Linked DNA regions of Homo sapiens. The protein of the gene in region 1 purifies or fractionates together with the protein of each later gene. This does not show direct contact. Each region holds a gene or a part of one and is shown in the gene's direction. Other genes may lie near its edges. The genes, in order: IL17RD and RELT.

Region 1 (12,419 bases):
CCCGAGCCACCCGGACCGGGTTGCGCTTTGGAGAGGGAAGGGGGTATTCTCCCGGACTTTCAGTCCACAACCCTGCTAAGGCCCGGGCGGCCGGAGAGGGGACTTGGAGCACCGGGGAGGGATGCGCCCCGCTCTTCTAGTAGCTTTGTTCCTCCTCGCCTGGGGCCGTCACCCCACTCCTACCCCTCCTCTGACTCCGGGACCTCCTGAGAAACTTCGCCTCCCGGTTCAGCCCTTCGTCTTGTGAAGGTCTCGCGGCTGATATCCTCCTTCCCTGCTTCGAGTTGCGGATATTTTTCCGCCAAAGGGCCGCGTGGGTGTCATCTGGGTGAGGTGCCTGAGACGAGACTGGAGAGGTGCCCAGACTTTCGCCGTGTGCATTGAGCCGTCTTCGTGGAACCGAGCGCTCCTTTGACACTGTCTGGGCGATGGGCGCGGGTGATTGCCATTCCCCTCTCAGCTTCCCTGCTCCCTACCTGGGCTTCTGGCCTTGGGCGGCCCCAGAACCTGGAGATGATGTCCGTCTGCCCCGAGTCTCCCACCGAGGCCCGGGTGGGCCCGGCGTCAGGGCACTCACGGCCTTAAGCTTGTGGAGAAAACGTAGGCTTTGCACTCAGGCAGCAGGGACATGACCTTGGCTCTGCTCCTGGGGAGCCATGAGCCTCAATTTCTTCATATGAAAAATGGGATGAAATGAGAATTTCCTTAGTATTGCTGGGCTGAGGGATAGGTATGGAGTGGTTTGCTTAGGCGAACGTTGACTCAGCCTCTTCTGGGTGGCTCTAAACAGCCTCAGCACAGCCAAAACCTAGGACATAACACTCCCTTAGGCACGCAGGCTGGTGCCTCCAAGCTCACTTGCCCCACAGTCCCAAGAAATGTGGTGCAGAAAACCAGGTGTGAGCCAGACAGCTGGGATGTCTTCAGACTCAGTAGCTAAGCTATGGAGACGGCTATGACCCCTGCTCTGCCTCCGCCCCCGCCACCCCCTTCCCCCCCCGCCCCCCCGCCCCATTAGGCTCTGTCATTCCTTCCTAGTTGAGTAAAGCATCACATTTTCTTACTGTGTTCCATTTCAGTAAAACATTACTGCTCTTGTTTTATTGTTTAAAAAAATTTTAGTAGCTAGCAAGTTTCCTCAAGGAGGATCTCGTGTTGACTTAAGGATCCTACTAGAATTTTGGATTTAGACTCCTATTGGCTTTTGAATGACTACAATATCACAGGCGTTTTATTTTGAGTGTTCATGTGATGGCGTAGGTAAATCAGTCCGATTCACTGTTTTGCTGCAGTTGCCAAGGTGGCTTCTTATGCCACTGTACAAAACTCGTGAAGTTTCCATGCTGTGGGGTATGGTAGTGCCCTGACGGAGCCAGGCTGGTGATTTTCTTCTACCTGTGCGAGTGTGTTCTCCTCTCCCAAACCTGCACCCTCATAAAATGGTGGCTCTGTCCCAGTCACCTCACACTTATGCTGACGTTTTCTCCACCACAGCCCCTAGTTGGGGGTGACTTTTCTCAGCTGCTCCTGCCTTGGCCCCACCAATCGTTTCCTTGGGTCATCCTCATTCGCCTCCTGGACGATCGTAGAGGCCTCTGGGCCATGTTCCAGATTCCAGGCTCATCCAGGCTGATACATGGTTCCTTGTCTCCTGGATTTGCTGCTTGGTGGATTTCATGGACCCAGTTTCCCCACATGCTTTGCATTCCCACCCTTTCCAGCCTCACCCCCTACCCTTCTCATCCTGCTCCTAACTCCGGATGGATGCCCTCTGTGCTTCCAAGACATGCTTTTCCCTCCTCCCAGGATGCCTTTTCCTCCCTTGAGAATTCCTTGCCTATCTTAAGACTCAGTTCAGGTGGTACCTCCTCAGGGAAGCCCTCCTGAATGCCATGCCCCTTGCTTTACCTTCTCATGCAGGTCCTTGCACTTTAGTCTCATCAGACAGCTTTGTCAGTATTTGTTCACTTCTATGTCTTCAGACTAGTTTCTTTAGCCAGGCACTGAACCTCATCTTGGTGGCGTCAGAGCCCTGTAAATATTGGCTGAACCAAATTAGACCCTGCTGCCTTCCTGCTAAATCCTGTATTTCCTGATAGATTTTAAGAAGTAGAGGCAAAGATCAGGGCATCAAGGTCCATTGTCTTTGCACATGCTGTTCCTGCCTGTGTTCCTTTACACCTCTGCAGCTTCCTTTCTCGGCCCTAGCATCACTTCTGCAAAAAATTGTCCCTGTCCACACCTCCCTAGGTCATGTCTTCTAGAAGTTGCTCTGTCAGGGAGTCAGCTAGGAAGTACTGGTACACAGTGACTAGAGTATTTGATTCATGTTTGGGTCCCCTACCAAATAAGAGGTACTTAGTCCATAGATGTTGGCCTCAGCTCTAAGGTTGCTTACAGTGGGGCTGTAGGAACATAAAAGGATAAGGGTCGACTATATGTGATGCAAATCAGAGGAGGCTTTCTGTGGGCCTGGGCCATACTCAGAACCTGAGAGGGGGCAGCAAGGTGCAGCACCAAGTCCTGAGAAACTGGATTTAGGTGCTGGAGCAGAGCTGAGCAAATGACCCCCTTGATCTCCAGGCAACATTTGTTTCAGGAACCCTTGCCCTTGCAGGAATGTGTATTTTTGCAAGACTTGCAAGGTGACTACAGCCAGCCAACCCTCTGCAGCCCTGCTAACAGACCCTTCGGGGCTGCTCCCAGAGGAGCCATGGGCTGGCCTGGTTTAAGTGGTCAGGTTTCACAACCTCCCCATTATTAGTGGGGCAATTAAGAGGCTGATACCATCTTGAACACAGGTCAGTGTTTTAGAAATGAGTTGTGGGCACACTTCCTCAACTACTTAAAAAAAATTCTCTTAGGGTCCTTGCCAGGTAAGGTTGCTCTTTGAGTAATAAATACTGTGTTCACACAGAAGTAATGATTTGTAAAACCTCCAGAGGGACCACACCATCCTCATTTACACTGGCTCTTGCTTCTAGAGTGGAATGGTTTTGTTTGCAACTAGAAGCAAGTTTGGTTCATAACTTTAATTGTGTCAGTCACTCATACTGAAGTTCTCCCTCCCCTTGTCTTGCTGGTCTAGAAGCCTTTTTATGGAACAAGGAGTTAGGAATCTACTCCCACAGGTTTGTATTTAGTGGCTTTTCCTGCAGTGGGGGAGGAGGGAACATTTCTTGCCTCCTTACCTAAATGGGGTCCACCTTCTCTGGTCTATTATCCCTGGAACATAATTCCTACTCCCCCTGCAAGAAAACACTACTCCTTCAGGAATTCGGGAAGCCAGGATGCTGGCATCATCTTTACAATGAAATGCAAGTTTCCCATTTAAGGCAAATACTTCATCACAAAAGGTAGGAAGGAATAGGGTGGTACTTGGAAAAGAGAAGTTCCAGCTGGTTAAAATTTAGGTTCCTGATAAAAGTCCAATCCAAGAATTATCCTTGGCTGTGGGCCCAGACATGTTTATTTGATTCTGAATTGGATGCATTTTCATTCACTTGCAGCTCATGGCTCCTAAGCCCACATCTGGTCTGCCTATCGTATGGCCATGTTGTCCATGTTACAGATGCTCTTGTGTCTGTTACAGAATTCTTGGTTAAAAAATTACTCAGTCCTGGTTGATACATTTTTTAGAGAGACGTTTTTATAAGCAGTGCAAAGCTTTCTTCCAGCCTGTTTTGCCTAGTTAATTGGGAACTCTTCTGGCCCATGTCCATCTTTCTTGAGCAGCCCTCCCTTCTCTCCCCAACCTCAGCCATCCACCCAACCCCAAGCCCCTGCAGTGCCTGGGGCATTGTGCTAGTTATTAACTTGGGCATATAGCTCCGTGACCAGGAGACCAGCAGTTAACTTTTTCTCCAAGTGACACCCTGGGCCTTCCAGTATCAGAATTGCCTCAGGAGCTTGTTAAAATGCAGATTGAAAGCTAATGGGATCAGAGTGAGAGTGAGGTGGAGCCCAGGAATTGGCATTTTAACAAATTCTTTTGAGGATACGCATGCTGTAACCAGGATGAGACCTATTGTTTTAGGGGACAGGGGTCCCACAATCCAAAGAAGGGGAGAACACACATTCTAAACATTTAAAATCAGAGTTTGGCTTTAAATTATGTCACTGGCCTTAGAGAAGAATGTGAAGACTTTCTCAGAGCCCTGACCGATAAAAGGGGTCAGGCTGGGTGGGGAGTGTGAGGATGGGAGGAGCAGGGAAGCGGGGCGGGGGAGAAGCTAGTTTGGATGGGTGCCTCTGGCCTGGGGCAGATGAGGAGGCCTGGAGTGAAGAGGACTTGACACTTCCCCTGAGTTCCTCCCTAGAACAGCTGGGTTTGTCTGAAAACAGTCTCAGGAAGGAGTAGCACAGGATCCAAATCAGATTCTCAGCAGTTCAAATCTTACAACTTCCCAACAAAGGAAAGAACTGCTAGTGCTTTTAAGTATTTTTCATGCTTCATTTGGCCTAAAACATGTTTTTTTTTTCTTTTTTAAAGCTTTCAAGGCTTTTTCTTCCTCTGTCCCTGAACTTTTTATATACTGTGCCCCAGCAGGTGTCTGCTCCTGCTGGGGCTACCCCATCAACAATTTTATTGTCCTCCTTCATTCCCCGCTGCCTCTTTTTTTGAGACGGAGTTTCGCTCTGGAGCCCAGGCTGGAGTGCATTGGCATGATCTCAGCTCACTGCAATCTCCGCCTCCCAGGTTTAAGCGATTCTCCTGCCTCAGCCTCCCGAGTAGTTGGGATTACAGGCGTCCACCACCACACCCAGCTAATTTTTGTATTTTTAGTAGAGACAGGGTTTCACCATGTTGGCCAGGCTGGTCTCGAACTCCTGATCTCAGATGATCTGTCCACCTTGGCCTCCCAAAGTGCTGGGATTACAGGCGTGAGCCACCGTGCCTGGCCCCCCACTGCCTCTTCAGCCTGCTTCTGATGGATGGGTTTTTAGGCTTCTAGAACTTGAGCCTCCACCCTTGATTTGTAAGAATGTGGGGTGAGGAGAGGGCTCAGCTATCAGGGAGCTTGACAGGTTGAGAGGTGCAGTGGCCTTAGAGCAGACCTCTCTCTGGCCACCCTGCCCTGGCAGCCAGACCTTTTCCATTTCCCATCTACTCCCAAATTTGGAGAGCTCCTGCCCTCAGTCAGCCGGGGGGCTGTCTGTGCTGGAGCTACAGGCCCCATCTCCAGCCAGCCAGACTTGCCCAGCCAGTGGGAGGCATTGTCCTCCTGGGCAGTGTTTGTCTTGGCTGCTTGGATGTTCTGAATGGGCCTGACACACGATTAGGTGACTGATGGCCTCCGAAACACATTGTCTCCTCCGGGGCCCACAGCCTTTGAAGCTCTTCCCGGTGGGAAGTAAAGAGACTATTTGCTCTATTAAAATGCCTTGGTATTTCCTCTGTTTAACCACAGGCCACTTCCCCTCTGCCACTCTAAACCCGGCAGGGCCACCGGCTGATTGAAAAGACACAAGCCCTCAAGTGATCACATCCTATTGAAACAGATAGTCTTACTGCAGATTAAAGCTAGGGCCAGTCTTGAAGAAACAAATCCAAGGGGGGAATCTTTGAGATGGCCCATTATCTTGCTCAGAATTTAGTCTGTTGAACAGAATTCACACTTGAAGTCCTGAGTGCATAAATGTAAATGTGTCTTTAAAAAAAAAAAAAAAGAAGAGATATCGACATTGTAAATTAAGTCAGTGTGTGTTTTATCTATATATGGCAGGTTAAAGCAATCCAATCAACAATTTCTCATTGTGTGAGTTGGAAACCCTTTGGTGTCTGGGAAGGGCATGTTGTCTGTTCATAGAAAACCACACCCTGCTGCTTTCTCTATTTGCAGATTCTACCTGTTCAGTCATATGCTGAAAAGTCCAAGTAAGAAAGAAGTCTGTAGCTTAAATAATACCAAGAATATCTCTGGGGAGACTCCTTCATCCTTTCCCAAACAATATATTAAAAGAAGGCTTTTAATTAATAACACCAGGCAGGAAACTAAAAATTGAACAATTTAAAAAATTACCTACATAACAAAAACTCCATTTGTACCATGTTTTTGTGAAGTGGCCTAAAAAACGAATAACTAGTTTCTAATAGAGACTGTTAACATTGATGTTTGCAACTCCATTGTTCAAAGTATCCATGATAAAAATGGATTCCCTTTTCTTTGGTTCCTTGTTTGGAAATGTTGGGGGAAGGTGGATGTAGCTAATTAAGGCTACAACATTTAAAGGGGGGGACTTAATAGGTACCAGCTGTCCTCAACAAATCACTGGGTGGACGACAAAATAAAGATGTGATGTGAACACACATGTAATTCTCTTCTAAAACGGAAATGGGCTCATAAATTTTCTGATTTAATAGTGTAAATGAAAACTACCTCTACTGTGCTTATTTAAGAAGCATTCATTTTATGGTAAAACTAATGCTAAAATGTCTTATTTGCATATGGCTGGTACCTTAAGACTTGAAAGGGCAGTAGATGGCAAGTATTATTGGAAGCTTAGTAAATTGTAATTTTATTGTACCTTTCTTCATTCCATACCTGATCTAATAGACGTTAATCATGAGGCTTTTCATTAAAACTACTACATGGTAGGGAAGCATGCTTGAACGTACCAGAAAAGCCATATAAAATTCAAGTATCAACTTTGAAAACGGAATGGAAATTGGTAGCATTAATTAAAATGTTTGGATGGATATTTACATTTCACACATTAAATGAATACTTCATATGAATCCTTTTGAAATCATGAGGGATTAGGCCTTAAATACAACTTTTTTTCAGATGTAAAAAGTACTTTATTGCCTTCAAAACTAGGAGTTTTTCCAAGTGTTCTGTTTGGTCATTTTTGTAGATCTTTTCCCCCCATTGAATAGTAACCCTTTAAAAAATGCTGGCAGTGTCCCCAGACTTCTGTGCTGCGATGGACTGTTTTACTCGAGAGTGGGAGGGTTAATGGGATAAAGGGAGGGCTTCCTTGGAACGAAGAGGTGTGTTTTCCTGAGATAGGCCATATGGTTTAGAAACCCTTTCCCTGTGATTTTATTCTGTCCGGGTGATTTCTGGTTTCTTCTCTCCCAAAACGGCCCCCTTTTATCTGAGGAAAATGCAGTGCAGTATGGACCAAATGTAGCAGCAGTCCGCCGCCTGAGCGTGGTCTCTGTTGAGTGACGGTTTATGGCCCCTTCCTCTGGAGTGTGCACATTTGCTCTGGGTGCAGCACAGGCACTCACACGGTTAGGATTTATTGTAACTGTTCAGTATCTGAAGCTCAAAAAGACTTATTTGGAGTGAGGAGGCAGGAGACCCTTTTTTTGAGCAGCCACCCTGTGTTAGGTTGTGGGACCAGTCCCCCGTCCACAGTGGCTGCCTGTCTGGGCCAGGAGCAAGACAAAGGAGTAGGGGCCTGGACAACAGGGAAATTCAGGAAGAGATTCTGGGGCCACAGTACCGAGCACTCCCCGTCCTCTCTCCACACTTCCCTACTCATTCCAGAGAAACTTGAACGGGCTTCTGCTGCTCCTCATCCTAGAACTGCCCCCGTGAAAAGCAGTTTGTTGACATTCAACTGCCTGAGGCCCTGCTTGAGGCCACCTTAGAACTCTGGCTTTTTAGCCCATGTCTCAGTTGGTTCCCAGTATCTCTGGCTTTTTGCTCTGCCTCAGTTTCCCCTGCTTTGGAGGAGGCCCCCTTTTCTCTGTGAGGCTTCTCCATACCACTCTCTAGCTTTCCCATGTGCCACAAAGCCTGGCCGACCCCATCATCCCTCCAGATTTCATGAGAATGTGTCCAAACATTGCAGTGATGCATTGAGAAACAAACAAATTTGATGTTTTTATAGGAAGAAATTGAATTTCAATGGTTCGTGGGAGGCTTAGATGAAGAAGACAGGTCTTACCAAAGGGACTTTGAGCAGGGCCTGACCAGTGAGTGGACCCAGGCGCTGGGGGGACAGTTTGGGCAGAAAGTAAGATGTGGGCAAAGCTGGAGAAGGGGGCTCATTGGTCGGGGGATGGTAAGGTTGAAGATATAGGTACTAGATAACAGGGCACCTTGAAGTTTGCCTGTGTATGTTCTGTCAGAAGTGGTGAGGCTTGGAAGATTTCTCCAACAGGTGAACGGTTTGATAAGAGGGACACTCAGTGGCCATTCATTCATTGAGTGAATATTGGTGTGTTCTGTGTGTTAGGTCTGATTTCTAGAGCTTAGATTTTATTTTATTTCCAGAGACAGGGTCTCTGTCACCCAGGCTGGAGTGCAGCAGTGGCGTGATCATAGCTTATTGCAGTCTTGAACTCCTAGGCTTAGGCAATTCTCCTACCTCAGCCTCCCGAGTAGCTGGGACTACAGGCACGTGCCACCAAGTCTGGCTAATTTTTTACATTTTTTGTAGAGATGGGGTTTTATTATGTTGCCCAGGCTGGTCTTGAATTCCTGGCCTCAAGCGATCTGCCCACTTGGGTTTACAGACATGAGCCACCATGCCTGGCCAGAGCTTAGGTTTTAGTAGGGGAGACAAATAGGATAATGAAGTATCAGACCTGACCATGCTCTTTCCAATAGCAACTTGCTGCTCACTGTCCTCTTTTCTTCACTTTTTCTCTGCCGAACTTTTCACCTTGGGACATACATAGTATTTTCTTTGTCCATCCTTCTTCCCCGTTGCAGTGTCAGCTCCATGTGGGTGGGGTCTTTACCTGTTTTGTTCCCTTCTGCATCACGAGAACAGTGCCTGGCACATAGTAGGTTCTCCATACATGTTTCTTAAATGACTAAGCACTCTACAGGAAATTAAAATGAGGCAATAAGAGCAATGGGTGTTTGCAAGTAGACACTCTCCAATGGCCTCTCTGAGGAGGTGACATGTCAGTCAAGCAACTGTAATAAAAAGTTCCTCTGGGCAAGGAGTGGTGGCTCATACCTGTAATCCCAGCATTTTGGGAGGCCAAGGCAGGCGGATCACCTGAGGTCAGGAGTTCAAGACCAGCCTGGCCAACATGGTGAAACCCTGTCTCTACTAAAAATACATAAATTAGCTGGGTATGGTGATGTGCACCTGTAATCCTAGCTACTCAGGAGACTGAGGCTGGAGAATCACTTGAACCCAGGAGGCGGAGGTTGCAGTGAGCCAAGATCGTGCCATTGTACTCCAGCCTGGGCAACACAGCGAGACTCCGTCTCAAAAAAAAAAAATTTCCTCTGAAATTGCTTTCTTAACATTGGCTAATCATGTGGCAGTTAGTGCTGAGAGTAGCATAAAAAATATGCTTAATTTATTCATTCACACCACAGTTATTGGCACTCCTGCCAGGGGCCACATACTGGTTAGAGGCTGGGCTTCAAGCCAGGTTCCCACTCATGACAGGGAGAGTGTGGGCTGGTGTTGTGTGGGAGCCACACCTGGCCGAGTGTCTGTTGCTTGAGGGGGTTGCTTGGACTGTCTACTTTACCCTGTGCTGTGGATGAGAAAAATGTGAAAAGTTACTGCTAAGCACTAACTAAGCATCCCGGTTTTGGACTTTCTGAAACGATGTGAACGGAACAAATCTCACTCCCTGGCAGCAGCCCTCAGTTTGTATGAAACTTTGTCTTCTTAACAGAGGTGCAGGTCTCGTTTTTGTTTGCTTCGTTCCCCTCTGGTGGTGAATGCATTTCATTTTCTGAAGCCACTTGAAGGTCTGTCCATAATCAGAGGTGCTCTTTGCCTTCTTTCCGGGGCTGCGGATTTGCCGGCCAGCTGTGGAAATGAGTTTTTGCCCGGCTTTGATTTTCATGCCTTGCCTCCCCGTGGGAGGAACTAGATATTTCTGATCTTACCTCTGCTCATATTCAGATCCAGCCAAGCAATCAGTGACTTCCCGGGCTTTTTTGTGGGAGACTGTGGGAAAAGTCCTGGTTGGCTGGCTATGAATTAATGAAATCCTTAGAAGGCTTCACTAAAGATAGCTCCTGTGGCTTACAAAAAAAAATGGCATTGCCTTTTTAATTTGAGAAGGACGTCATGGAGTTTTACCAAAATTAAGCAGAAAAAATGTAACATCTGGTTGTGCTGGCGGAAGACTGCTTCAGGGCCTCTGGAGCTATGAGTTCCCAGTGCTGGCATGCCCAAGGTGACTGTCACCTGCCCCTATAGTGCTGCTATGGACAGGCCGCCTCTCATTGTTCTCCTCCTTGGGTTTTGAAGTCATTGAGAGACAAATTCTACCTCCCACATCTTTTCACTTGAGCACATTTCCCATCTACTGAGCTTTCTTATTTTACTTAAAGGGTCACACATTTTTAAAAGTACAGAGTTTTCGAGTTGATCAAGACTAGTGTAATCATTGCTTTTATCTCATTAAAAAAGGATGGGGGTAGATAATGGGGGCAGCAGGCCAGCGAACTTTTAAAGAGTTCTAAAAAGGAGAGTGAGAATGGTAAATTGCTGGAGAAGAGTTTTAGGGAAAGGCATATAGGAGATTTTAAATGGATTTATGACGTGTATGTATGTGTGTGTGTGTGTGTGTATATATATATATATATATATATAATTTTTTTTTTTGAGACAAGGTCTCACTCTGTCACTCAGGCCGAAGTGCAGTCATGCAATTATAGCTCGTTGCAGCCTTGAACTCCTGGGCTCCAGCAATCCTCCTGGCCCAGTCTCCTGAGTAGCTGGGACCACAGGCGTGTGCCGCCAAGCTTGGCTATTTTTTTACTTTTTTTTTGTTAAGACAGAGTTTCACTGTGTTACTCAGGCTAGTCTCGAACTCCTGGCCTCAAGCAGTCCTCCTGCCTTGGCCTCGCAAAGTGCTGGGATTACAGACATGAGCCACCATGCCCTGCCTAGAGCATACGTTTTCTGAAACGATACAGGAAGATGAAGTTGTTGCCATCCCAACCCCCCAACCCCTCAAGCAGGCAGCTAGTCACCTGTACAAAATACAGGTATATATAATATATAAAATGTAAATATAAATGTATATAGTGTGTAAAATGTATGTATATAATGTATAAAATACAGTCACCTGTATATTAGAGTCCCTTACAGCCCCACATGGGGATTCCCCATTATTGTGCTCTTTCTCCCATCCTTTGTATTCTGAAAATTTTCGAATCTGTAGAAGAATTGAAATAACAGTAAAATGAACACCCATTTCCCCTTTGTCTAAAGTTACCAATTCATAACGTTTTGCTACACTTACCTCACTTGTCCTTTTAATGTCATTCATAATTTCTTTCTGCATCACATTCTAGGGGGCAGAGAAGGGTCACTCATTGCTTTTTGATGTCCTGTCTCTTTAGCCTCCTTTAATACAGAACAGTTCCTCTACCTATTTTTCGGTCCTTTATAGCCTACACATTCTGAAGAGTCAAGGCCACTTGTGTACACAATTTGGATTTTTGATTGTTTCCTCATGAATAGGTTCAAATATTTTGACAAGACCCCTCTAAAGGTGATATTGTGACTTTGTTGGATTTTACATATCAACTGGTAACAAATGTAGATGCAGTTTTAGCAATAAGAAAAATTTGTTTTTTCTGTGTGAAATTGTTGTATTTAGAGATCTGTGCTAATAGTAGTACCCAGTTTAGTCTTGTGTTGTCTTTTTAAAAATGCAGTGTTTCACATTAAGCCTTCCCTTTTACTTTATTGAGAGTCTAAGGAAATGCAGGATGTCATTTGTGCTATCCTGTAATAAACTTTTTCCTTAAAGATTATTTGAAATCAACCACACTGTCTCAAAATGAGGAGTGCTATTTCTCAAGAATGCTCAAGGCTTTTGCTATTCACATGGGCTTGTTGCAGTTATAGATGTCGCCCTCAGAGACGGGGAATGAGTTCCTATTAAAGACCTGTGTTTGGCCGGGGCAGGTTTACGGTTGACTGCTTCCTCACACCAAAATTCAGCCATTTCTTTCCTTTGTGCTAAGAAAACATTGAACTTTATTTCCAGTAAAGGCTACTTTACTAAAAACGTATCCTCCAAGTCAGTTTCTAGCCTTTTAGTTCTGTGATTGCATGTTACCTACATTATTTTATTAGAGTCCGTTACAGACAGTTTCATTAGTTTAACTTGAATTATTATCTTCTACCTAATTACATGGCTTTTGTTTCTTTCATTTTACCCCACTCCAGATTTAAGGGCCAAGACATGTAAAGTTAATATTGGTCATTTTTCAAAGTAAGTTAAAATGTCAAAAAGCAACAAGTTGTTATTCTTACAGGGTACCAGGGAAACAACAGAGACAAAACCTCCATCTTTTATTCATAAGTCCAGAGAGACTACGAGGGCGCAGGCAGGCCTGTGTGCCGGGCGTTTGTTCAGCTTTCAGGACTGGGCCTCCTCCCCTGCTGGCCATGAAATGTCATGCCGAGATGTAATAGTGGGACATTCAGCATCCAGAGAATGGTCCGCAGAGATTCAACTTTGC
Region 2 (12,419 bases), on another chromosome or scaffold:
CACAGAGAAGTGGTGCGGGGAGTAGGGGAGTGGAGGCAGGAGACGCCTCCTGGAGGATTTCACTAGGCCTTGAAGGATGTGCCGAAGCCCACCGTGTGGGCTTCCTTTATAGACTCACCTTCACCAGGCCTTTTCGCCAACTAGGTGAGGGTTTCCAGGGTTGGGCCTGGGCCTCGTCAACAAAGCAAAGTGAGGTTATTCTTCCTGGCCACCAACTGGCAGGAGGAAGATGAAGCCCAGAAAGGGGCAGAGGTGGCTCTAGTTACACTGGCAATGCTGAGAGGACCCAGAGGAGTATCTCAGTCTCCAGTCTCTTTATCTTGCTTCGCACAACTCCTTGCTTGGTTCAGAGCCTTGAAGAGGCGGATACAAGAGGCCCTCTGGGCACCGCCGCCCAGTCCCGCGCAGCCCCCTGCAGTTCCCAGGGGCGCGAGAGAGGGCGACGTAGAGCAGCACCGCCCAGCGGCAGAGCGGCGAGCCCCTCCGCGGCTCGGGGTGAGTCGGGCGCGGGGCGCAGACCGCGCTCTGACGTCGGGGGCGGAGCGGCCGTGACGCGCGGGGGCGGGTCTGCGCACCTTCCCGGCCCAGCCGGCGATTCATTCAAAAGGCGCGCAGGCTGCGCGGCTGTCCGGGCGCTCGCCGAGCCGGGCCGCGGCGCCGAGTCGAACGGGGAGCCGAGCTGGAGCTGCCGCGGCGCAGCCAGGTAAGGAGGGCGCGCGGAGCGCCCATCCAGAGTCTGCTCTCCGCGGCCGGGCCAGCGGGATACGGACCCTAGTGGCGCCCCCTGCCTCCCCGTGTCTCTGAGGAAGTTCGCGGGCTCGGCGGATGCGGCAGCCCGGCCGCGCGCCCCCCCACCCCACTCCTCCCGCCTCGCGTCCTGTCCCGGCGCCTTCCGCGCACCGGCCACCGCCAGTCTCCGAGCCCCGTGACCTGCAGGTCCTCCGGCCGCGACTCCGGGCCGGCCCTGCGTGGTGGCTGTCGGGGGGCGCGCGGGGAAGCAGCGGAACTTGCGGTGTGAGGGGCCGGCGGGGCCCGGAGCGGTCCCCGGCCCGGGAAACTTGGACCGAGACCAGGTTGTGGTGCGGGCTGGACGGCGGCGCCTCGGCGCGGCTGCGGCGCGGGGCGGCCAAGGGGGGGTCTGGATGGTGTCAGCCCGTGACTGTGGGTGACACGGCGCGTGAGGCGGCCTGGCCGGGCGAACGTGTGGCTGGGACACTGGGCGGTGACGCCGGGCCGAGCGGGCGACACAGAGGGGCTCTGTGTGTGGGAGACAGGCAGCGTGTGTGCGTGTGTTGTGTGAGGGAAAGACCCGGGGTCACTGGGGTCACGAAGTGCGTGGCTTGGGGCGTGACCGGCGCAGGGCCAGGGCCACCCGTTACTGTGAGTGTGAAATAGAGGGAGAGGAGCCCAAGTGACTGAGAACGAGCCGAGCTCGCTGGCGCCATGGTGTGCGTGTGGGGTCAAGTGGTGTCAGTGTGTGTGTGTGTGTGTGTGTGTCTGCGCCTAGGGTGATGATGAGTAAGAGGCAGGAGGAGGAGGGACCGGACCTAGGACACCTTCCGGCAGATGTGGGGCGATGAGGAAGTTGGGGAGCCAGGAGACAAGGGTCTCCAGGACTGTCCCCACGAGGGCACCCCTCAGGAGTTCAGCTTGGTGAGGAGATGGACCCTGAGGGATAGGCCCTGGCTGAGGGAGAAAGCCGAGGCTGGGCAACATCTGGTGGGGTGGCCCAGATGGCAGCAGGGTAGGGGCCCTGTGGTAGTCTCAGCTTCCCCCCGCCCACCTGCATCCACACACTCACGCATCGAAGTCCCTACACCTGGCAAAGTTCTGCCCCTGTGTAATCTGTATTCTCAGCGGACCCGGACACAATCTTGTTCTCAGACCCCCCCGCCCCCCTCCCCCGCGCAGGCCTCAGTCTCCCCATCTGCACACTGAGGTGCTGGGCTTTGAATGGACTGTGAATCATCACTTTGGGATCCTCTATTGTTTTGGGTCAACTGCCTGTGTTCTCCCTTCCCTTCAGGCAGAAAGACTGCAGTGGGGGGTGGGGGCAGGCTTCTCCTGGGGACACAGCGGCCCAGGGGCTGCACTCAGGGGCTACTGATAGGGTTGGAAGCACAGCCTTCTCCAAAACTGGTCAAGGAAACGTTAGCCTCCCACCCAAAGGCTTCCTGGTCCTCTGTCACGAAATGGATCCATAGACAATATGGATCCCCAAATCCATAGACATTCACTTCTCTGCCTGGGTGTCCTTTCTTCAGTTCCTTGGGTTGGGGGAGAGTGGGGAGAGACTTGTTCCCCAGGAGTGGTCTCTGGTCTGGGAGGCTAAGTTCTTGCTGGAGAGCTGGAGCGGTACCCTTTCGCCATCTGGGCAAGACCCTTCTGAGGCCCCTTCTCCCGTATGAAGGTCTGTGGGGTTCATGCAGGGTGGGGTGGAAGCTGAGCTCCCTAGTCTAGGAGAGGGTGGCACTTGCTGTAGAATCTGGAAGTTCTGTCTTCTGCTGTCGTCCTCTGAAAATGCTGATTACATTCTAGGGGTGGGGGACAGGGTGGGGGACAGTGTCAGGCACTGTTCTGAACACTTCATGGTGTTCTGTCTTGTTGAATCTTCGCAGTGATTCTGAGATGTAGTGACTGTGTTTCAGAGAAAGGAACTGAGGATCAGAGAAGCAAAGTGACTTGGCCAAGGTCATACAGAGTCAGGACAGTGCCAGGACTGGAATTCAGGTCTTCTGACCCCAGAGACCAGTGAGATGCTGGGAGAGAGGATCACCCACCTTCCTAATAACTGCTCATGGCTTTCCTGGACTTCTGTCTCTCAAACTTGGGCTAGTAGGCGTGGCCTAGCCAGGGCATTACATTGTGAGTTCTAAGTATGATGTGTGTGTGTGCACACATGTCTGGAACACTGGGGATGGGTGGGTTACATGGTCTTCCTGTTCCTCCCCAGACTTCACTCCCAACCAGACATCACCAGAAAGTCCTGTCCCCTGCCTTCTAGAGCCTGGACCTGGCTTTGGGGGTGTCCCCATGGCTTTGAAGAGTGTATGGAGTTAGCAGCACAGCCTAGGGGTAGCAGGGAAAATTGAGAGTCCCAGGTGACCTTCATCATACTTGAGAGGCCCCCTCCCCTTTGCAGTTGCTCTAGAGGCATTTCCCCAAATCCACCTGCATGTTATGGTGGGGAGCAGACAGGGAGTGACCTTGAGCTGGTCCCTACTCTCTCTGGGCCTCGGTCTCCCTGTTCTTCCCAGAGACCCCTTTTGGCTCTGACCACTGTTGCCACTTGGCCAAGAACTGGAACTGGGGATCAGGGTGTCCCTCGGTCCTCTCTGCAATGACTGGAGCTGTGCTTCTTGGGGCTGATGAAAATAGCTGTCGTGGTCTCTAGGGGCTGAGCCGGAGTTATTTCCATCCTCAACAAAGAGGTGGAAATAGCTTAGGGCCTGGGAGGGGGAGCAAGAGGAGAAGGGTTAACTTCTCCTTATCCCAGCCTTAAAGGAGGCCCCCAGCCTCAGCCTGTGCCCTGGCCAAGCCAAACCTTTCTGGGAACTTGGGCCTCTGGGGATGACAGTGGGGCCAGGCTGGGTTTCCACTTGTGACCACAGTTGGGACTGGTGTGATAGCTGCTGGAGGGAGGGCCCTATGTCTAGCCAAGGAGGGGAGATATTGAGGGCCAGTCAGCACCTGCCCCTACTCATAGGGTCAGGCCCAATCTCATTTCACAGAAGGAGAGATTGAGGTTCTGAGAATTCAGGGACTTACCCTAGGACTCCTAGAACCTTCACCTTCCAGACGCGGTACCTGCCTTCTGTCCTGAGTTTGTCATTCTGTGTCCACACTTTCCCTGGCGGCTGGAGGTTGGCCAGCACTGGAAGCAGGCCCAAGACACACCTTCTGGACGTCGGCCTGCCTCATATTCCAGCTCTGGCCTTGCCATCCCTGCCCAGGCTCTGGTTCTAGCTTCTGTGCTTCCACGTCGGCTCTCCCGCACACTGCCAGAGTGACCTCCATAAAATAACTTGCTTTTCGCCTACAAAGTGTAGTTCAAACTCCTCACCTGGCAATGAGGCCTTTCCTTCCAAGGCCTTTCAGAATTTGCATCTTTACCCTCGCCTCTCCTTGCCAGATGCCTTGTCTGCCTTGCCTTTGCTTTTAAAGCTTCCCTCTTTCTAGAACCCTCTTGGCCATCCAGACTATAGCCCCAGCTCCACCTCACCCAGGAAGCCCTCCTGGCCCGAAATTAGTCTCCCTTCATTGTTGTGGGCCACCTGCCAGGTGTCCTCCCTCACTGCTGGGGAATGGGCACAGGTTTGGGGCACCTGTGGGTACCGCATGCTCAGCTTGGTGGGGCCAGCGTGGCCAGTAGCCCACCCCCTCCCACTGCCGTCTCTGTGCTGACGAGACCTCTTCCTGAGGAAGGGCAGCTGCTCTAGGATCCCAGCACCTGTGTGCTGGGAGGCACCGGGAGATTTGCACCCAGGTCTCTGGTGCTCACCATGACCTGAGGCAGAATGTGTGCTGGCGGGTGGGGGCAAAGACTCACGGCCACTCCTGTGGGTAGGGGGCAAGTGTAGTGCTTGTCATGGTCCTCGACATCTTGAGCCAGTAGAGGCAACTGTCCCTGCTCAGGCCCTGTAGTGTGCCAGGCTCTGGGCCCAGCATTTCCTCACAACAGCACTCACCCGGGCCCTCTCCTTTCCAAGTTGGTATGGGGGAACCTCGACTCAGAGAGCAGCCCTAGGCTGAGTCACGCAGCCACTTGTGTTGTAGTCAGGTACTCCAGATCCTACCCAGCCCCCAGCCTGGTCTCCAGGCAGGAGGTGAGGGTCGAGGGGTTTGTCTGACAATTCTAACATTAGTTTCTCAAGAAGGGCCAGGCTGGTCAGCACCCAGTCTGGCTGGGCGGGACCTGACTACTTCTGTTATGGGGCCAGCCCTTCTGCCAGGTCAGCAGGAGAGAGGACCAGAGAGGAAGGGGTTTTGCCTGAGGTTACTCAGCAGGGTGTGTTTGGCGCCATTCCCCACTCAGGATCGATGGGGGAGCAGGGATGTGGTCTCTGGACAGGGAGAATACCCACTGTGTGCTGAACCCGTGTCTTTCTGGGCCTAGGCTTGGTGCTGCTGAGTGGGGCTGGAGTGGCAGAGAGGACAAGAGCCAATGCTGCATCCCTACTCTGCCCATCCGTGGGATTATGGCCCGGGAGGCTGTCACATCCTCAGCCTTATACTCCTGGGGGTCATCATTCCCTCCAAGCACAGGCAGGGAAACCAAGGCCTAGAGAGAGGAGGCACTTGCCAGGCCCCAGTGTCACTGGGATCCAAACCCAGGTCTGCTGGCCTTGAAGACCAGAGTTCTTTCCTAGGCCACTCTGGGAAAGATGAGAGCTCTATAAATAAGCTGCCCATGTGGCTGTGAGCAAGTGCCCTGGCTAGTTGTCACAGACAGAGGGGGACAGCGGGACCTCTACAGCCAGTTAGAGTCAGGGTCTGAGTGTGCAGGTAGAGAGAGGAGTGGGGGCTTCCAGAGGGGGGACCTGCGCTTAGCCCAGTGCATGCACTGTGAGGAGGAGCAGTGAGAGGGGAGGACCTTGGCCACCCACACCACCAGCCTGCTGCATGCCTGGCCTCCTGCACAGACCCTTTCCCTCCCTCCCTCAAGGAGCCTCACCCCTTCTCGAGGAATCAAGGGAGACTGAAAACTGATGGCAGGGGTGAGGGGTGGGGGAGTCTGGAGAGGAGAGGGGGCCCTCTTGACAGGGAGGCTGGGGAGGCTTCCTACAGGAGGGGATGCCTGGCCCAAGGCCTGATTGTAAGAAGAGCCCCTGTTGCCTGTGAACGCTGAGTCCTCCACCACACCATGAGGTCAGCTGCACTGGTGTAATTGGGAAACAGGCTTGGGAAGTTGGGGCTGGGTTCCTGACTGCTGAACTACCCCTTACATTCCTGACCATGGCCCTGGCTGGTGTGGGAGCAGGTGGACGTAGGCCTGTACAGGGGCTGGGACATGGGCACCCAGGGCCCTCCCAGAGAGGCCGAGGCCCCTCTACTTGTGCTGCCAGGGTTTACGTGGAGTTCCCCAAAGCACTCTTGCCACACCCAAGCCTCTGGGTGACCTCGGCTGGCTGTTGCTTGGTCCTGAGCTTGGGTTCCTCTGGCCCTCGTGGAGCTGTGTTGAGAGCCCTCAGTATCCCATGAGGCAGGGACTAGCACCCCTGTTTGCAGAGGAAGACCCCGAAACTCAGGGAGGGTAAGTAACCTGCCCAAGGCCATCGATCTGCGAAGTGACAGAGCCAGAGTCTGAACCCTGGTGGGTTGCTCCAGGGCCCAACCTTGTCTCCTCCCTGCTCCACCACTGCACTTGCACTGACCCCAGTCCTCAGCGTAGCTCCACTGGGTAGGACCTGACCTGGGATGGCCCTGGGGGCGCCTCTTTCCCCAGCACCGCAAGTCTGGGGAGAGTTGGAGAATGGGGCAGACCAGGGCTGTGGTCTCCCCCAAGTCCCTCCCAAAGCCTCTGCCCAGGTCTTCCAGGTCAGGGTGATTGGGGGCAGGGCCCATGCTGAGCACATTAGGGACTTGGGATCAGTTTTATGGCCGGGGCAGGTGGCAAAGGTGGCTTCTTGGAGGAGGTAGCAGAGCATGAGCCGGGGCTGCAGTGAGGTGTCCTTCAGCACCCCCAGACCCGTTGCTGTCCTGTCTCAGGGCCAGGGTTGGCAACACAGGGCTGTCTGTGGTGCTGAGAGGTTGACGGTGGCCAGAAGCAGTGGAGATACCAGGCCTGGGTGGCTCAGGCAGGGGTCGCCTGCCAGTTGCCCCTACTCCAGGGTAGGTAAACTTCATCTCCTTCAAGGTGAAGTTGTTACAGGCTACCACTTGACCTCTCTGAGCCTCAGTTTTTTCTGTGTGAAGCATGGAACACTGTCTTTGAGGGGTTCAGTGAGACCCAGCTTAGAGTGGGAAGGGGACAGGCAGTAGTGCTCAGTGAGGAGGGTTAGGGAGCCTCCTCTCTGCCCGAGATAACTGTCTGGTCTCAGACATCCCTCCTCTAGCCCCAGACTCGGCCCAGGAAGTGGGGCAAGGATTGCACCTGTACCATACCCAGACTGGGAGGAGCTGGGTGGGCCAGGTGTGGCCACCTCAGCCCTTTTCTTGGCCTCAAGGGGCCAATTTAGCCCCCTTAGCCTCAGCCCCACCCCATCCACCTGAGCCACTGAAACCCAGGCCTGGTGGCAGCCAGGAGGTCTGAGGTGCAGAACCATGCCCAACTTCTGGGGGTGTTGCTGAGAGTGGGCTGGGGAGCAGCTGCTGCCTGGCCTCGAGGTGCTCCCCAGCCCTTGAGGGACTGGTTTATACCCCATCGTGGTGACCTGGGAGCTCATGGCTGCCCAGGGCTGTGGGAGGGGGCAGGAGTGGAGCACCTGTCTCACTGAGTGGCCCTGAGCCAGCCTCTGCACATCTCTGAGCTTCCAGCAGCAGCCCTAGTAAGCTGGGGTTCCACCCTGGGACCTCTTTTTCCCCGCTCTGGGAATTCCCAGACTTCCCCGGTCTTCCTGCCTCTTTCAGTTCACAGCTCCCTTTCCTGCCAGAGCTGGCACAGACTAGAACAATATGCAAATGAGTATAGATGCAGGCAACTCCTAGAGGCCCCATGGGATGGCGGTGCAGACAGCACCTTCTCCTGGGGCCCTCCTGGGTCCTTAGTAACAGACCCTCAGTTGAGCCACCTACTGGGTGCTACTAGCTTGCTAGCCTCCACCATCAGGTTGGCAAACACTGCAAGGACATTTACTATGTGCCAGGTCCTGGGCTAAGTTGCAGGGCAAAAGGAGGCAGAAAAGAGACAGTCCTGGGCTCCATTCCTGCTTCATCTCTTACTGGCTGTGTGACCCCCGCCAGTGACCTCCCCTGACCTCAGTTTGCCCAGCTGTGAAACAGGAATGCTCACTTCTCCTGCAAGGAAAGGCAGCAACCCAGGATGAGGGCCCGGCCTGCACAGGGCTGGGGTCCATTCCTTTCCCTGTGAGTGTGGAAGAGGGAAAGCCACTCAGCGTGGTCGCTGCCCTACTTCAGCCCCACTTGCCAGGGAACCGCTGGGCTCCTTGCTAACCTGGATTTCTCTGTTGATGGGTGGCCTTTGTCTTCCTGCCTTGGGTGTGGCCACCGCCAAGGGAGGCCTGTGTCCAGCTGTGTTTCCAGGCAACCCTAGCCTCTGGAGGCCAGAGGGAGGTCCACAGGCTCAGGAGCCACTATCTGGGAAGCAGAGTAGCTGCCTCCCTACCTGCCCTCCTCCAGGTGGGCACCAGCCCCCACCTCCATCTCCCCCAGTGCGGCCTCTCTTAGCAGGCAGCCTGGGGAGCCTGCTGAGACCGAACTGTTCATTCTTCTCCATCCCTTGCTTAACCCTTCCTGGCTCCCATAGGCCCTAGGGGGAAGTGCAGGCTTTTTGGCAGGCAGCTGAGCCTTGGTGTGACCTGAGCACTGCCCACCAACCTTCCCAGACTCCTCCAGACTCCTCCCGTCTTCTCCGCCCTCCCACCCTCCAGATTCCCACCAGGGCGAACCCAGCACCGCCTGTATACCAGACTCTGTGCCAGGCACTGAACGTAAATAAAAGGTTTGTGCCCTTCTCCTCCACATTCCACACGTAGGGAAACTGAGTCACAGTGAAGTGTGGGGAATGCTTACTCTGTGCCAGGCCTGTGCTGAGTACTTAATGTGATTCTCTTCTTTCAGCCTTACCACAGCCCTCTGCAGGCAGGCCACAGAGCCAGTGCAAGACAGAGCAGAGCAGGACTGCACCCCATACTTTGTATCCCCAGGTTAGCCCAGGGGTTCAGATCTGGGTTCTGACCCACCCCAGCCTCTGGGCTCCTTCCCCCTCAGCCTGCTCACTGGCTCTTCTAGCTCGGCATAGCTGGGCTCTCTACCAAGAGTGCCTTTTCTGCCTTCTCCCCCAAATCAGCCCATACCCGCCCAGGTCGGCACTGGGCATGGAGCAGGCAGCTCGTGGTGGGGAAAGGGCTGGGTAATAGGATCTGCATGGCACCATGAATGCTGAGGGGGAGGTGGGGGAGAGGGTACTTCCAGGAGGAAGTGACTTCGAGCTGAGCTCTAAGGAAGAGTGGGTGCTGGCCAAGCGATGAGGGGAGAGCAGAAAGCAGGTGCAGCGTGTGTGAGGGTGGAAAGCACTCAGCGTGGCAGGCGTGTGGGTGGGGGAGGTTGGTGGGGGCGCGTCACGACGCCATCCTGAGGGTGGTGGGAGCTGGCCCAGGGCCAGGGCCAGAACTGGGTGTCAGGGCACCTAGGCTGCAGGGCGGGACTGACCTGGAGGCCAGAGACAGGGCAAGGGGGCAAGAGCAATGGGCGCAGGCCTTGGGAGAGCTTAGGGACTGTAGGGAAGGGGAGGGCCCTGCCTAGGGGAGGGGGAGTGGCGTGGCAGGGCCCGGGTGACCCCAGCGAGCTTCAGTTCTGGGAAAGGGGAAGCTGCCTGTGGCCTGGGCTGGTGGCACAGCTTCCTCTTTCTCTGAGGCCTCCAGGCTGCACCTCCCTGGGGCTCCACCATCTGTGGCCTCAATCGTGGTCTGGGGCCCTCAGCTTGGGGGTCTGGCCGTGGCCTTTGCTAGTTGGCTTTTCTCCAGGGAATTTCTGGTTCTCATTGTTCGGGCATTTTTTTGGAGAGCTGAGTCTGAGGAAACCCTCCCCGCCTCGTGAGCCTGCTTGGAGGCCTCCCGCTTCAGACATGGGGCTGGGTGTGGAGTTTTGTGGCAAATAAAACAGACGTCCCTGCCCTCACCACTGTCTGGTGGGGGAGCAAGGAATAAACAAGTAAGCAAACAAATACTTAATCACAGCCCTCTGCCAGCAGGGCAGAGGAGAAGGGCTGTGGAGAAGGAAATCCCATGACCTACTTTAGCTTCATTACCTCCTTTAAACCCCATGACTGGCTGGGCACAGCGGCTCACACCTGGAATCCCAGTACTTTGGGAGGCCAAGGCGAGAGGATCGCTTGAGCCCAAGAGTTGGAGACCAGCCAGGGCAACATAATGAGACCCCGTCTCTACAGAAAATAAATTTAAAAATTTAGCCAGGCATGGTGGGGCATGCCTGCAGTCCTAGTTACTCAGGAGGCTGAAGCAGGAGGATCACTTAAAAGTTCAAAGTTGCAGTGAGCTGTGATCGTGCTACTGCAGTCCATCCTGGATGGCAGAGTGAGACACTGTCTCAGAAAAAACAAAACAGAAATTCCCCAAAAACTTCGCGACAGCCATGCCAGCAAGATGAACGTCCCCATCTCTGTAGATGAGAAAACTGAGACCCAGTGATGTGAAGGTCCCAAAGGGAGTTGGTGGCAGTGGAGACTGGGCCCCAGGCTAGGAGACATGGGAGGAGTGGCCTCTAAGCCAAGTTCCTTCTCTGCTACCCCCCTGGGGCCCCTCCTCCCCATCCAGTGTGGCTGGGTGTGGCTCTCCTCTGTCAGGCATCGGAGGCTCTGGGGCCTCACTGACTGCCCAGCCTTTAGGATGAGGCAGAGACGGATATGGGACCTTCAGATATCCCCTCCCAGCCGAGGGGGCTTCCATCTAACTGTTTTTTTGGTCACGGTTCCAGGGCCGTTTTAGACAGTGGAGGCCTTGTGGGGCAGGGTGTGAGGGGTGCTGAGCAGCAGGTGTGGACATGTGTGTGCACCAGGCCTTTCTACCTGACCGGGCAAGTCCAGTGGGGGCTCAGTCTGGGCTGAGTGTGGGGGCCGGGCAGCCAGACTGGAGTAAGTGCTGGTTTGGGGTAATGAGAAGGTGCGTAATTAGAAGGTGCAAGGCCCTAGGTGGCAGTGTCTATGCGTGTGCTGGAGTGGGCCCTCGTTGGCTTTGAGTCTGGGCCTTTGGACCCCGCTTTCTTCCTGGAAGGTTCTAGATCACACAGCTCTGCGTCTGTCTGCAGATGAGCAGCTGCACAGCTGCTCCCTGTGGGCTCAGGTCACCTAGCAGGTGCCACCCAGGGTTGGGGTGGTTCTAGGGCTCTCTGCTGTGGTTGCTTGGCCTCTTTTCACCCCCGCATCAGCCCTCTGGGCCTACCTTGGGGACATGGAGGGCTGCTAGAGCTGGGGGCTGGGCTGTTGGGTTGGTCACGGTTCCCCCTGGCTTTGTCTTTTTTTTTTTTTTTTGAGATGGAGTCTTGCTCTGTCGCCCAGGCTGGAGTACAGTGGCACAATCTCGGCTCACTGCAACCTCCACCTCCCAGGTTCAAGCGATTCCCCTGCCTCAGCCTCCCGAGTAGCTGGGATTACAAGTTGTACCACCACACTGGGCTAATTTTTGTATTTTTACTAGAGACGGGGTTTCAGCATCTTGGCCAGGCTGGTCTTGAACTCCTGACCTCGTGATCCACCTGCCTCTGCCTCCCAAAGTGCTGGGATTACAGGCGTGAGCCACCATGCCTGCCACAGCCTGCCCCCACCCCCAGCATCAGGCTCTGTCTTGCGTAGTCAGGCCTAGTGGGGAAGTGAAGCCTGAGGACTTGGGGCTCGTGGTCAGGTCTGTGGGTTAGATCCCTCAAAGGACAGAGGAGGGGCCATGGGGAGACAGGCTCGAGGTGGGAGCTGGGCCCTGACAAGGGCACAGGACACTTTGGGGCAGAAACTGGAAGGAAGACTTGTGACCAAATTTAAGGAGTGACAGGGGACCCTCCCCAAATAGCCTGGGGGTGCCATCTGTTGGGTGTTGACTGCCAGGTGTGGCCTCCACCCTATACTGTGGCCCTACCTTCTCCTGTCCCTGGCTTTCCCCTGAGCTGGCCTGGGACCCAGAGTGGCTGCCAGTGACCTGGAGAGTCCTGAGATGATGTAACTGCTGCCCACTCCCTCCCCTGAGTGTAACTCAAACCCTGGGCCCCTCTGAGATCTGCCAAGAGGGAGGGCGGGTGGACAGATCGGTTTCCTGGGCTGCTATTCTAGGTGGGAGGGCCGGGCTGCCTGCAGGGAGAGGACTCTGAGTGATTTGGGACTACCACAGGAGGCGCTTTTCTCACCTCACCGGCCTTGGAGTCACAGCGGGGGCCTCAGCCGCGGCGGCCCTGAGCCAGTGGCTGGGTTCCCAGGCTGCCCCTGGGCTTAAGAGGCTGCGTGTGGCCTGAAGAGCACGGCTTTCCTCAGCCTCGTGCCCCTGAAGCCAGGCCTCCAGGAAGTACACAGCGGACTTCCTTGCTCTGCCACCTGTCCCTTCTGCTGTCTGATGTGAATCCTTTGTCCTGCTGTGTCCGCCTCGTCCACTGGCCGGAGGCTTCTCCAGAGCAGGCCACCGTCTGGGCCTGGGGGCCTCAGTCTCAGACCGGTGGGCCGTGACGCCACCATGGATATTTCTCTGAAGTATCACACACTGCACTCCCACTCTGCTTTATTTCGTTTCTTGGCACTTACC

What was found.
Region 2: the proteins of IL17RD (region 1) and RELT purify together in Homo sapiens (affinity purification with mass spectrometry; 2 studies listed by BioGRID and IntAct, with this or other methods). This does not show direct contact.

What each region holds. Positions count from the first base shown.
Region 1 is NC_000003.12:57,152,375-57,164,793, reverse strand, and holds part of IL17RD (interleukin-17 receptor D isoform a precursor), read left to right. Parts: intron 1-10,738; exon of another isoform or gene 10,739-12,419. UniProt on the Homo sapiens protein: Feedback inhibitor of fibroblast growth factor mediated Ras-MAPK signaling and ERK activation. Regulates the nuclear ERK signaling pathway by spatially blocking nuclear translocation of activated ERK without inhibiting cytoplasmic phosphorylation of ERK.
Region 2 is NC_000011.10:73,375,797-73,388,215, forward strand, and holds the start of RELT (tumor necrosis factor receptor superfamily member 19L isoform 1 precursor), read left to right. Parts: upstream 1-602; 5' UTR 603-703; intron 704-871; exon of another isoform or gene 872-1,073; intron 1,074-12,419. UniProt on the Homo sapiens protein: May play a role in apoptosis. Induces activation of MAPK14/p38 and MAPK8/JNK MAPK cascades, when overexpressed. Involved in dental enamel formation.